Linked DNA regions of Homo sapiens. The protein of the gene in region 1 purifies or fractionates together with the protein of each later gene. This does not show direct contact. Each region holds a gene or a part of one and is shown on either strand. Other genes may lie near its edges.

Region 1 (7,027 bases):
TCAGATTTTCATCTTAAAACTTGAAAAAGACATGATAAAATAAAAGCAAAGTAGCATTCACCTTCTTTCTTTTTCTAGAAGGATTCCTTGTAGGGTCAGGCTTCTCAAACTCTGCTGACTTTGCCTCTTCCTTTTCCTCTTCCTCATCAGGTATCAGAGAGTATTTAGTCCCACCTGGTTGCATGAAACAATCTTTTGCAAAGTGGCCTGCAGAAGAAAAGTAGAAAAGGTATAGAAAAAGGAAGTAGTCTCTCTTCTCAGCAAGTGAATCTTTCCCCAAGTCTCCTGAAATGGGCTAGCTGGCTCAGGAAATATTGTTGAGTTCATTCAAAGCAGCTGTTTGATTCAGGGTAGATTTTCTACCACCTCAACATGACACTGCTCACTCAACCACAGCCAGACTAGCAGCTGGTCTCAGGGCTGTGGGGAACACTGGTACTGTTCTCGAAATGGCAAAGGATATGAGGATGCAGGTTTTTACTGCCCTCCATTAACAATGGGGCTTATTAATTTTTTAAGATCTATTTTGGAACATATTCCTGACAATCAAAGACTGCTCCAGAGAGCAGGATGTTTAGCAGAAGGAGCTGAGTGGCAGGCCAAGCCCTAAAGGAATATAGCTTGTAGGTAGCTGGTAGCAAGTGGGCACTCACATCTAAGCTAACACACAGAGAAATAGGCACAGTCACCTAGGGGCACTGAACATTTACAGACTGTCAGGTCTGGCAAGCACCTTGGAAATCATTAAATCCATCCTACATTTGTAGAAGATGAAAGCCCAGATTTGAGAAGTAGCTCAAGGTCATATAGACAGAAGCAGAGTTCAAACTTATCCTGGGTCTCATGCCTCCCTGCCCTGTGCTTTCTGCTGCACCAAAACCAACTACCTTTGACCTGACCTTTACTAACTGGGACAAATTCCACCTCTCATTATTCTTCTCTTCTTTATGTAATGCCTGTTGGACACGGTTAAGGTTAAAAGACCCCCACCTTCACTGAGCCTATAGTGGTACTGAGGGGCCCTTTAACAGATGCTATGCTCTACACTGCTAGTTGTGTCTGAGTTTGTGGTAGATCCTGTCTTAGGGGCACAGAGGAATTGTATGAGATAATCAAAAAGCTATGTGTGGGCTGGGCACAGTGGCTTATGCCTATAATCTCAGTACTTTGGGAGGCTGAGGCAGGAGGATCACTGGAGCCCAGGGAGACCAGCCTGGGCAACACAGGGAAACCCCGTCTCTACAAAAAATTTTTAAAAATTAGCTGGACATGGTGGTACACACCTGTGGTCCCAGCTACTCAGGAGGCTGAGGTAGGATTGCTTGAGCCCAGGAGGTCAAAGATGCAGTGAGCCATGATCATAACACTACACTCCAGCCTGGGTGACCCTACCTTAAAAACAACAAAAAAAGCTATCTGTAAAGTACTCTGTACCTCTGGGTCCAACAGCTGGGTGGCACCTGGCAGGGAAATATAGCAGAGTTTTCCAAATACCTGGAATGTTCCCACAGTTTTCCTGAGGAGGTATTCTTTCTCTCAATTTTATTTTTTCCTTCTCCCCTCTATGCTAATGATAAATAGGGGCTTAAAACCCCACAACTTCAACCAGGGCACAAATCTGCTACCAGTTATTGTAGAAAAATCACACAGTAGGGTAGACGGAAGACTAGGGAGAAGGGGTGACAATTGAGGTCAACCTGAAAATGAGAAGCTGGCAATCTCTCTCATTATAGCTCCAACTAGGGATCAGGCTGAAAGACCTTTTAAAATTTGAGTAAGAGTAGAGGAAACCTGAGGAAATAGAGCTAAAAAGAAGTGACTATCCTGTATTCTTTATTCAATATCCTGTAAAAAGATATTGTATTCAGAACTCTGACATTAAAGAGATAAAGATGAGAGTCTGACTTGGATCTTTAAGTTATATATGTCTAAGTTGCTTAATTTTTGCAGAATCATCATCCTTGGAGATAAAATTAGAGTGTTAATCATAATCCAACACTCTTACTCCTCCTGGCATAGTTCATGGGGGTCTTGCCCAGACAAGGCATATGCTGTGGGTGGGGTGGGAGGAGTGGTGGTAGTGGTATAGTATCTGGTAGGGCCAGCACTCAGAAAAGAAAACAGAAAATGTATCACCCCATGAACTCTGATGTGAGTCTGGTGGAAAAAACAGCAAAGGCCATCACTTGGCTAAAAAACAGGGTAAACTAAACTCACACTGGGCTGCCTCCTTCTTCCAGAAAAGGGTCCATCCACAAGGAGAGAAACGTGGAAAGGGCAGAGGCTTCACCCTACCTTTACAGCCACACTTCTTGCAGGTAGTGTTCAAGACAGCCTCAAGGGTGATCTTCTGCCCAGTGTAATCCTGGAAGGATCGCCTCCGCCTCTCTTCTTGCCTATAATGAAAAAGATACCGACTGCCGGCCCCCTTAAGAGATATGGCCAGAGATACTACAAGGTAAGGTTGTATGTTGGTTTTTTGTTTTTGGCAGGGAAAGGGGAGAAAGAAAGAAAGTTTTTGACAGAACGAGACAGGCAGTAAATGCAATGATGTGAAATAGCCCTAAATTAACAATTACGAATGAGACTAACCTTCATCTCACTAATGCACAGAGGATGAAAATATATAATTACTCAACATGCTAAACACCCTACAACCCTTACCAGGTCACTCATAGGTTTAAAAGACCTTCAAAGGCTTTCTAGAAAATCAGCTCCAAATTCTTTACCTTGGCATTCAAGGTCTTTCACAGTTTGTCTCTAAACTACTTTTCCAGCCTCATCTTTACTCACACAATATGCTCTGGCCAAAGAAGTCTATTTTCTCTTATCCATGTGGCTCAGTGCTTTTGCTCAGGCAGTTCTCCCCCTCTCTGAAATGCTCTGTTTCCCCACTTGACTCTCACCTCACCACTTCACTATACCTAGACATTTCATGGCTCAGTTCAGTTACTAGCTCTCCTTCTATCAAGTCTTTTCCTCTGAGCCCCTCAGACAGAATTAATCTCTTTGTTGCATTTCTCATAGCCTTTTAAAACATTTTTAGACTTCTTACCAAAATATAATATATATGTTGATGTGATTTGGCTCTGTGTTCCCCCACACACAAAAATCTCATGTTACATTGTAATTCCCAGTGTTGGGGGAGGGACCTTGTGGGAGGTGATTGGATAATGGGGTCGGATTTCCCCCATGTGATAGTGAGGGAGTTCTCATGAGATCTGATGGTTTAAAAGTGTGTGGCACTTTCCCCTTTGCTCTCTCTCTCTTTCTCTCCTGCCGCCATATGAAGATATGCTTGCTTCCCCTTCACCCTTCAGCCATGACTGTAAGTTTCCTGAGGCCTCCCCAGCCATGCCTCCTATACAGGCAGTGGAACTATAAGTCAATTAAACCTCTTTTCTTTATAAATTACCCAGTCTCAGGTAGTTCTTATAGCAGTGTGAGAACTAATATATATATATATATTATATTATATATATATATATAAATGTCTGTCATAAGTATACAGCTCACTTGATTTTTCATAATTTGAACATACCAAAGTAACCAGTACTCAGATCAAAAAACAGAACATTAAGGCTGGGTGTGGTGGCTTATGCCTGTAATCCCAGCACTTTGGGAGGCCAAGGCGGGTGGATCATAAGGTCAGGAGATCGAGACCATCCTGGCTAACAAGGTGAAACCCTGTCTCTACTAAAAATACAAAAAATTAGCCGGGCGAGGTGGCGGGCGCCTGTAGTCCCAGCAACTTGGGAGGCTGAGGCAGGAGAATGGCATGAACCTGGGAAGCAGAGCTTGCAGTGAGCCGAGATTGCGCCACTGCACTCCAGCCTGGGCGACAGAGCGAGACTCTGTCTCAAAACAAACAAACAAACAAACAAACAGAACATTGCCAGCATCTCAGAAGCCCATCTCATGCTCCCTTCTAGTTACCTGCCTCCCCCAAGGGTAATCACAATTCTAATTTCTAACAGTACAGATTCCTTTTACTTAAAAAAAAAAAAAAAATAGCCAGGCATGGTGGCTTGTGTTTGTAGTCCCAGCAACTCGAGAGGCTGAGGCAGGAGGATCACTTAAGCCTGCAAGATTGAGGTTGCAGTGAGCGGACTGCACCACTGTACTCCAGCCTGGGTGACAGAGCAAGACCCTGTCTCCAAAACAAACAAACAACAAAAAAAAACCCATAACAAAGGCAGAAACTTGAGGACATAACTCAAGGAACTCACAAACATGGTTTTTGCTTTCACCTATCTATTTGTAGAGATGAGTTTCAAGTGGCTGTGAGTTGCAGCTTAAGCAACCCCCATGACAATCAATTCCAATACTCTGTGGCTTCTACCAGACTACAAACCAAATCATACTTCCCACTTAACACTCAATTCAACAAATGTGTCAGTCACCCACGTCTCTCTTTTTGTCCTCATTGCCATCATTCTAGTTTAGGCTCCCATCATGTTTCATCTAGAGTAATAACTCCCTCACTGGTCTCCCTGCCTCCAGTTTTCTTCCTCCAATCCATCCCAGCACAGATTCTGAGATTAATCTCATTTTTTCAGTACAGCTAGTAAGTGGATAACGCCAGTGCTAATACTAGTGATAGTAATAATTATGTATACCAAAACGAACAAAACATGATTCTTTTCTGGAAAGAACTAATAGTCTGGCAATGGAGGGAGACATACAAATGAAAAATTTTAACAGAGTTAAGTCATATGTGCTTTTTCTAAAGACTACCCTATGGACCAGCAGTTGTGGCTCACACCTATAATCTCTCAGCACTTTGGAAGGCCAAGGTGGGAGTATCACTTGAGACCAGGAGTTCAAGATCAGCCTGGGCAACACAGCAAGACGTCATCTCTACAAAAAATTTAAAAATTAGGCCAGGCATGGTGGCTCACATCTGTAATCCTAGCACTTTGGGAGGCCGAGACAGGAAGATCACCCGAAGTTAGGAGTTCAAGACCAACCTGACCAACATGGAGAAACCCCGTCTCTACTAAAAAAACAAAAATTAGCCGAGCATAGTGGTACATGCCTGTAATCCCAGCTACTCGGGAGGCTGAGGCAGGAGAATTGCTTGAACCCAGGAGGTGGAGGTTGCAGTGAGCCGAGATCGTGCCACTGCCTCCAGCCTGGGCAACAAGAGTGAAACTCTTGTCTCAAAAAAAAAAAAAAAAAAAAAAAAATTAGTGGGGCATGCTGGCATGGACCTATAGTCTTGGCTACTTGGGAGGCTGAAGGAGGAGGATCACTTGAGCCTAGGAATTTGAGGTTGTAGTGAGCTATGATCACTACACTCCAGCCTGGGAGACAAAGACCCTGTCTCAAAAAAAAAAAAAAAAAATTATATACTACACTCAATTCTGATCTTGATCATAATAAAAAAGAAAAAGACTGTACTTTGCAGGCTATGCCTAATTGGAAACTGCTTTTAGCCCCTTTCCATTTACAGAGTCACTTATTAGATTATCTCATTAACACTTTGGGACCTGAGGGGATGAATATAAGAGTTAGATTTTTATGGAAAATGAAAGGTGGCTAACAAACTATGGATGGCTGAAGACAGGATGAGAATACTGAGCATAACAGGGCAAGGCCAGACAATGGGATTCCTGGGGAGGTTAATCTGACGAGAAGCCTCTCTGTCCAAAGGCTTTTTTAAAAAAATTCATGGGCTGGGTGTGATGGCTCACGCCTGTAATCCCAGCACTTTGGGAGGCCAAGGCAGGCGGATTACTTGAGGCCAGGAGTTCAAGACCAGCCTGGCCAACATGGTGAAACCCCGTCTCTACTAAAAATACAAAAATTAGCCGGGCGCAGTGGTGGGCACCTGTAATCCCAGCTACTCAGGAGGCTGAGGCAGGAGAATTGCTTGAACCTGGGAGGCAGAGATCATGCCACTGTACTCCAGCCTGGGTAACAGAGCAAGAGTCCATCTCAAAAAATAAATAAATAAAAATTCATATTCTTTAACTGATATTCATGGCTCTCCACAATCTGACCCTAAATTATCTTTCAAGCCTTCCATTCTAGTACTTGACCATATCCTCTTCTTTCCTTAAACAAGGTTCCCAAATGTACTATGTGCTTTTCTGCCTCATTCCTTTCCTCAAACCATTTCTTTTGCCTGAAATACCATTCCTTCCCCTGCTGTCTGACAAGATCTTATCTGTTCTTCAAAACCTAACTCAAATACCACCTATTCTCTGACCATCAAGGCCTGAAGTAAACTATTCCTCCTCAAGTGAATTCCTAGAACCCTTTCTTTAAACAGGGAGTCCCTAACCCCCAGGCCACAGACTGCTACTGGTCCATGGCCTGTTAGGAACCAAGCTGCATAGCAGGAGGTGAGCAGCAGGTGAAGGAGCATTACCACCTGAGCTCCGCCTCCTATCAGATCAGCAGCAGCATTAGATTCTCATAGGAGTGCAAACCCTATTGTGACCTGCACATGTGAGGGATCTAGGTTGCGCACCCCCTATGAGAATTTAATGCCTGATGATCTAAGGTGGAACGGTTTCATCCCAAAACCATTCCAGCCCCCTATCCATGGAAAAATTGGTCTTCCACAAAAGTAGTCCTTGGTGACAAAAAGGTCGGGGACAACTGCTTTAAACTACTCTTTTAGTATTTATTACAAGTTGCCTTATATTTGTTGAACAAATGAGTAAATGAAAGTACTAACTAGGGCTGAGCGGTAGTGGCTCATGCCTGTAATCCCAGCACTTTGGGAGGCTGAGGCGGGGGATCACTTGAGGTCAGGAGTTTGACACCTGCCTGGTCAACATGGTGAAACCCCGTCTCTACTAAAAATACAAAAATTAGCCAGGCATGGTGGACTATGCCTGTAATCCCAGCTACTCGGGAGGCTGAGGAATGAGAATTGCTTGAACCCAGGAGGCAGAGTTGCAGTGAGCCACGATTGTACCACTACACTCCAGCCTGGGTAACAGAGTGAGACTCCATCTCAAAAAAACTAAATGAATACTATGGATGCTATACATCAGGCACAATGGCAGACAAG
Region 2 (7,027 bases), on another chromosome or scaffold:
GGTATCAAGAACTGCCGATTTTTAGCCTAAGCCAGAATTTAAAAGTACATACAAACCTCCATACTCATTTTCTCCGAGTTGTTTCTAAAGAACGGACTATACGTTTCTTCTAAGCTGTTAAGCACCTCTGGTTCACACAAACGTCCTGTTTCATATACCCAACTACTCTGCATATCAAGCTGCTTGGCAGCATGAATACTATTCTGCTGCTGTTGAAATTGCAACCTGTTTAAATGAACACCACTATCTGCATTTCTACTTGCAGGTGGTCGATAAATTTCAATAGAAGGGCGAGAAGAACCATATGTAAGTGTCACTGTAGGTTTTTTCTGAGATAAGGGATTCTCCTGCACAAAGTTGAGGTCTTCGTCAATGAGATCATCTGGTTCTGGCTTAATATCAATCACATCTTCAGAGGGTGCTGGCTCCCTCAAAGGTTTCACTGTTGACATTAGTCGGGTTGCAGCTCCATCATCGTAAGTCTGTCTATTTAAAAGAACAACAAAATGTATTACAGCCAAATTAGGGCAATTATCACCAAATCTTTAAAGAATGTTTACTTGAAAAATTTCAATGAAAAAACTGAGGATACTCCCTTTACATATTCCATTCAAAACTGCTTTGAAATTGCACTTTCTTTCAACTTTGATTTACTAAATTTGTGATAAAAGATAATCATACTTAGATCTTATCCATTATTTTATTCAAAAAACTACTCACGATCACTTCATTGTTTCTAAAAATTGCTGAGAACAGCAAACTGAAAGATATAAAAACTAATATAAATGTCACATACACAGAGCCATCTGCCCCCAGCAGGTCTACACCAGACTCTTACCTGACATTTGTGGTTTTTGACTCCTGCGAACTTGTAGAAACTCTGGAATCTCTTTTTTCAGGTCTCGCGCTAGGAATGGCAAGTGGTGGCACTGCAGCTTCATGCCTCCTCTCATCTCCCCGACTGAAATTGCTCTTGTTTGAAGGCACGTTACTATCAAAGATGTTGGTATCAGAAGACTTCAGACTAGAGGGTTCTGAAAAGAAAAATACAGTCCTTTTAATCTATTTTTATTTCTTATTTTTATTTATTTATTTATTTTTGAGATGGAGTCTCGCTCTGTCGCCAGGCTGGAGGGCAGTGGCGCGTTCTCGGCTCCCTGCAACCTCCAAATCCCTGGTTCAAGCGATTCTCCTGCCCCGGCCTCCCAAGTAGCTGGGATTACAGGCATGTGCCACGATGCCTGGCTAATTTTTGTATTTTTAGTAGAGACGGAGATTCACCATGTTGGTTGGCCAAGATGGTCTCCATCTCCTGAGCCCATGATCCGCCCACCTTGGCCTCCCAAAATGCTGGGATTACAGGCGTGAGCCACCGTGCCCGGCCATCTATTTTTATTACTTTAAGTCGTTTCCTTCCTCATCACCAATTCAAAAGCAGTATGTTTATTGTAGAAAATTTTAAAAATATAATAAAAATCACCAATTATCTCAAAGGTGATTTTTCGGGGGAAGAGCATATATACACATTTTTTAAAACATGTATCTTATGCGTGTATATTCTGTTATTCTTCCACAACATTATTTTTAATAGTTAAATATTATTCCACACATGGTAATACAACAATTTCGTTTATTATGACTGAACTTTTAAATTGTTTTCAATTATAAAATACTGAAATATCCTTGAGGCTAAATCTTTGCACATATATGTAATTATTTCCTTCGGATAAAGTGCACTGCTCCCTCTCCCACACTTAAATTATCTTTGAATTATGTTAAATTTACTGCTCTTAAGTTCATAAAAGTATGTGCTTTCTAAAAAAGTTCAAATGAACCGTTTTGAAATTGATGGGTTTTTCCCAAAGCACTATGACTTTAGAAAGAAACAAATCATATGCCATAGCAAGCAGAAATTAAAAAAAAAAGTTATGAATCTTACCAGTTGTAACAGAGCGAAGTTTATCTAATACACCATGAAGCCTGAGGAAAAAAACAAAAAACAAAAATAAACCTTCTGTTAAGAAAGATTTCATTTCAACTGTCACTCTAAATTTATGACATTATATTCAGAGATAATTTTTTAAATTTTTTTATATTTTTATTATTTTTAAATAGAGATGGGGTTTCACTGTGTTGTCCAGGCTGGTCTTGAAGTCCTGGACTTGAGAGAACCACCTGCCTCAGCCTCCCAAAGTGTTGAGATTACGGGCGTGAGCCACCGCACCTAGCTGAGATAAATACTGATAAACTGTATTTAGTGAATAAATGGTATGAACTTTCAAACTTCACATTTTTAAAAAAGGGCTTTGTATAAATCCTACAGAAGTCAATAAAAAATTGTATTTTTTTCTTCACTGTTTTCAACATCTAGCCTCTGCAAAAATATGGGAAAGAATATCATCTGACCAGTCTTAGTCTACAAAATATGTCACCCTGTTTGTAAGTACTAAAGATTTACTGTAGCTTACAGTAAAACAAGTATCATAAACATGTAATATTGCTTATTATTACCACCATTTAAGCAGCTTATATTAACTGCTTAAACTAGATGGTGTCTTGGACAACTTAATTCTGAGAGGTTAAAACAAGTTATAATCTCAAACTATGCTATATCATTTCACTCTATTACTTTCAAAACTGATGCTGTAAGGCTGTAATCTTGCTTGTAACATAACCTGTTTTGGTAGTTATAAATGAGGTACTTTGCCTTACATCCCTTCCCAGTACCTCTCAAAATATGCCAGAAACCTCATGTTTCAATGAGAACCCTAGTCACATGCTACTGTCCCCACGGACACAATTACTTCAAGGCTCCAAATAATCACAATAGTCTGTTTGGGGCTGGTGTTAATGAACACTAACTTAAGAAAGCAAAGTGCCAAAATGGGGACATCACCCTTTGCTTCACTACATGTTAAAGAACTCAATTTATGGCCAGATGAGAATGTTGAATTAATTTGGTTTTAAATTCATTTGGTAGTCTGTTTTAAAAATCTAAGTATTCTATCAAGTTATCGGAGAAAAGGATCTACTCGGTCGCTTTAGAAAAAAAAATAGTACTCACAATAATGGTAATTTTCCCAGTCAAAAGACCCACAGTCTTTTTTTGTGGGGGGCTGGGAGGGAATAACCTCTGGGGACAAATTGTAACAAATGGGTTGGGTCACCCACAGTGAGGCAGCAGTGTATCATAACAACTGATGACCACTATACAATGTTCTTCAAATTTGTGCAATGTATAAACCCAGAGAATTCTGTGCAGAATTTCAAGACGGTTGATAAGCATACAGTTGCCTACTTGGGCAAAAACACCTTGAAGACGACCTTTGGTATAAAGGCAAGAACTTAACCAGGCTCATCTCCCCACTCAGTGCCTCCTCTTGCACTCAAATTCGGCAGGCCACTTGCTCACTTCTGCTACATCATCACCTTTCACGGTAACTGGTAGTTCCTAGCCTGAGAAGCCTAATAAAGTATTTCGTCTGTCTATTCTCAGCTACATCATTATCCTCCAGCCCTCATCCTCACTTTACCTCAAACCTGGTACCAGGACCTAGCATCTTAAGTTGAATCTTACTCTTCTAGTCAGTATTCTCAACTAAAGGCATATAACAGTAATTTATGTATAAAAGCAAAGTTGCCTATTTTAAAATTCCAAACTTAAAAAAACTTATAATCTCAAAATATGCTGTAACATTACACTACAATTATTACTCAAAATGAAGGTGTGAGTTTAACAAAAAGCTTAAAAAGTAAGAAACAGAAAAGTGAGAAACAGAAAACCTTGCCCTCTAAAGGTAACTCATTGTAAAAGGCAATGTAAGAAGCCAACCCAGTTCAAAAAAACATCTGTAACTGGTTTTGGTGGGGGAAAAGGAACTATAAGATACAGAAGCTGGCCAGGTGCAGTGGCTCATACCTATAACCCCAAGACTTCTGAAGGCCAAGGCAGGAGGACTGCTTGAGCCCAGGAGTTCAAGAGCATCCAGGGCAACATACTAAGACCCTGTCTGAACAAAAAATTTAAAAATTAGTCAGGCATGGGAGTTCAGGAAGGAGGGGACTGCAATGGGATGATCACTTGAAACCAGGAGATCGAGGCTGCAGCGAGCCATGATTGTACCACTGTGCTCCAGCCTGGTGACAGAGCAAGACCCTGTCTCAAAAAAAAAGATATAGAAGTTTACAAAAGAAACATATTAAGTATAGCCGACATATACTAAGAATTCCTTAGGAAAATGCTAGGGACACCTATAAGTACTTTACACATATTAGCCCATTTGATCCTCAATAATAATTTTATAAAGCAAGTGGCTGTACTATTTCCATTTTATAGCTAGAGAAACCAAGGCAAGACACAGCCAGGATTCAACTTTGGCTGTCTGGCTTCAGAGGCTGATAAGGTTTGGCTCTGTGTCCCCACCCAAATCTTATATTGAATTGTAATCCCCACCTGTCAAGGGAGGGAGGTGACTGGGTCATGGGGGTGGTTTCCCCCATGATGTTCTCATGATAGTGAGTTCTCAAGAGACAGTGAGTTCCCGAGTTCTCAAGAGACAGTGAGTTCTCACAAGATCTGATGATTTTATATAAGTCTCTGGAAGTTCCTCCTTCACTCTTCTCTTTCCTGTCGACTTGTGAAGAAGGTGCTTGCTTCCCCTTCCTGGGGCCTCCCCAGCCATGTGGAACTCTGAGTCAATTAAACCTCTTTCTTTTAGAAATTACCCAGTCTCGGGTATTTCTTCATAGCACTGTGAAAATGGACTAATACAGAGGCTGTGCTCTCATCACTCACAAACTGCCTCTCCAAAGTAAACCTAACTCAAGTGTCAAGAACCTCTCTTTGGACAGAATATCAACTCAGGCTTGTGCCAAACTTTGGTCTGAGGCACAAAAATTCAGAAACATACCATACGGTGAATCGAATTGTGTTGTTCCCTAGAAACAGGGACAGATCCTCTGTCATTTGGTCCTGACTTTTCTTGTTGGCCACCATCACCATAATGTAATCAGGAAGTTCTTCATCTATTTAAAAGGAAAGGTAGATCAAAACTTTGTTTCCTCAAAACTTTCTTCTTAAAGTTGATGTGCTTGAAAATATAGATGTAGCTCTAAGCTTTAGAGTCGCAGAGCTCTACTGGAATTACATTGGACAAGATGGCTTAGCTTTAATTTTTTTCTCTTCATTCCACAGGTATTTCAAATACTAGAAGAATGGAAATTAAGAATAATTGATACTTACAAAACTAAACATTCTGAATTATAGGGTCAAACTTGAGCATGCATTCACTTCCTTGAATCTTTTTAATAATGCTTATTAATTTCAAAGAAGCTTATGGGAAATATTTGAACATTCCCCAAGAAAAAGAATTGAGTTTTGTTTAGTTTTAATTTGCAAAGTTTCAAAATAACACTCATTTCTCAAGTGAACATCTTTACCCTTGCTAAAGGCAGGTTTCAATTACTCACAGTAACAAACTTGTAGCAACATCGAATAAACAAATAGACCCAAAAGCTCCACATCATTTAAAAAAATCAATTTTAACATTAAATAATGTCAACTCAATGCACGGTTTTACCCTCACAGTGGTAATCCTACAATGATTATAAGGGTGAGGTCTAGGATAAAAAAAAAAAAAAAAGAAAAAAGGCCAGGCGCGGTGGCTCATGCCTGTAATCCCAGCACTTTGGGAGGCCAAGGTGGGCAGATCACAAGGTTAGGAGATTGAGACCATCCTGGCTAACACAGTGAAACCCTGTCTCTACTAAAAATACAAAAAATTAGCCGGGTGTGGTGGTGAGCGCCTATAGTCTCAGCTACTCGGGAGGCCGAGGCAGGAGAATGGTGTGAACCCAGGAGGCGGAGCTTGCAGTGCGCTCAGATCCTGCCACTGCACTCCAGCCTGGGCAACAGAGCAAGACTCTGTCTCAAAAAAAAATAAATAAATAAAATAAATAAAAGAAGCCAAAAAACACCCTCCTAGTGGTAATCCTACAGTGATTATGAGAGTGAGGTCTAGGATTTAAAAGAACAAAAAAACAAAAACCTCACTAAGAAGATAAGGAAGCAAAAGCTGTTATCAGGAACTCTAATCTCTGACCCTCAAAACTCCATTCCAGTTCTCTTTTTTTTTTTTTTCTTTTACGACAGAGTCTTGCTCTGTCTCCCAGGTTGGAGTGTAGTGGCACAATCTCGGCTCACTGCAAGCTCTGCTTCCTGGGTTCAAGCGATTCTCCTGCCTCAGCCTCCCGAGTAGCTGGGATTACAGGCACCTGCCACCACACCCAGCTAATGTTTGTATTTTTAGTAGACACCAGGTTTCAGCATGTTGACTAGGCTGGTCTCGAACTCCTGACCTCAAGTGATCCACCCACCTCGGCCTCCCAAAGTGCTGTGATTACAGGCGTGAACCACCATGCTGTGACAAATTTCTTTAATACCTTAAATACTTGTAATATTTCTATGCAGGCAGAAAGGTTCATTTCAGAAGTACTTTTTTTGTTTCAAAGAAAACTATAAAAAATGCAGTTCAAGTGTTGAAAGAATAAAAGAATAAATAAATCTTGGTTCAGCTTTATTTTCTCTGAGCCTCAATTCTCTCATCTGTTAGTCTTCCAACAATCCTGACAACAAATCGTTTATGAAAGTGCCCAGCAAATGGTGGTAAGTACTCCATAAATTACCAATTCTCAAACTGTTTGGTCTTGGGCCCCTTCTTTGGTTTATGCAGGTTCTATTATTTATGGTGTTCAAAATTAGAACTGATCATTTTTAATTAAAAAGTATTTATTAATTCATTAAAAAATAAATCCATCACATGTTAATCACAAATCCAATTATATTAACACAAGTAACATTATTAAATTTTCCAAAAAAAAATTTAGGCAAGGCACAGTGGCTCACACCTGTAATCCCAGCACTCTGGGAGGCTGAGACAAGTGGATCACCTAAGGTCAGGAGTTCGAGATCAGCCTGGCCAACATGGTGAAACACCGTCTCCACTAAAAACACAAAAATTAGCCGGGG

Evidence for each region. Proteins that work in one complex are often made in the same cells at the same time.
Region 2: the proteins of ZCCHC17 (region 1) and ZC3H14 purify together in Homo sapiens (affinity purification with mass spectrometry; 2 studies listed by BioGRID and IntAct, with this or other methods). This does not show direct contact.

What each region holds. Positions count from the first base shown.
Region 1 is NC_000001.11:31,342,009-31,349,035, reverse strand, and holds part of ZCCHC17 (zinc finger CCHC domain-containing protein 17), read right to left. Parts: intron 2,397-7,027; coding exon 2,296-2,396; coding exon of another isoform or gene 2,218-2,295; intron 208-2,217; coding exon 62-207; intron 1-61.
Region 2 is NC_000014.9:88,566,037-88,573,063, reverse strand, and holds part of ZC3H14 (zinc finger CCCH domain-containing protein 14), read right to left. Parts: intron 5,207-7,027; exon of another isoform or gene 5,026-5,206; coding exon 4,911-5,025; intron 1,981-4,910; coding exon 1,940-1,980; intron 1,035-1,939; coding exon 839-1,034; intron 487-838; coding exon 57-486; intron 1-56. UniProt on the Homo sapiens protein: RNA-binding protein involved in the biogenesis of circular RNAs (circRNAs), which are produced by back-splicing circularization of pre-mRNAs.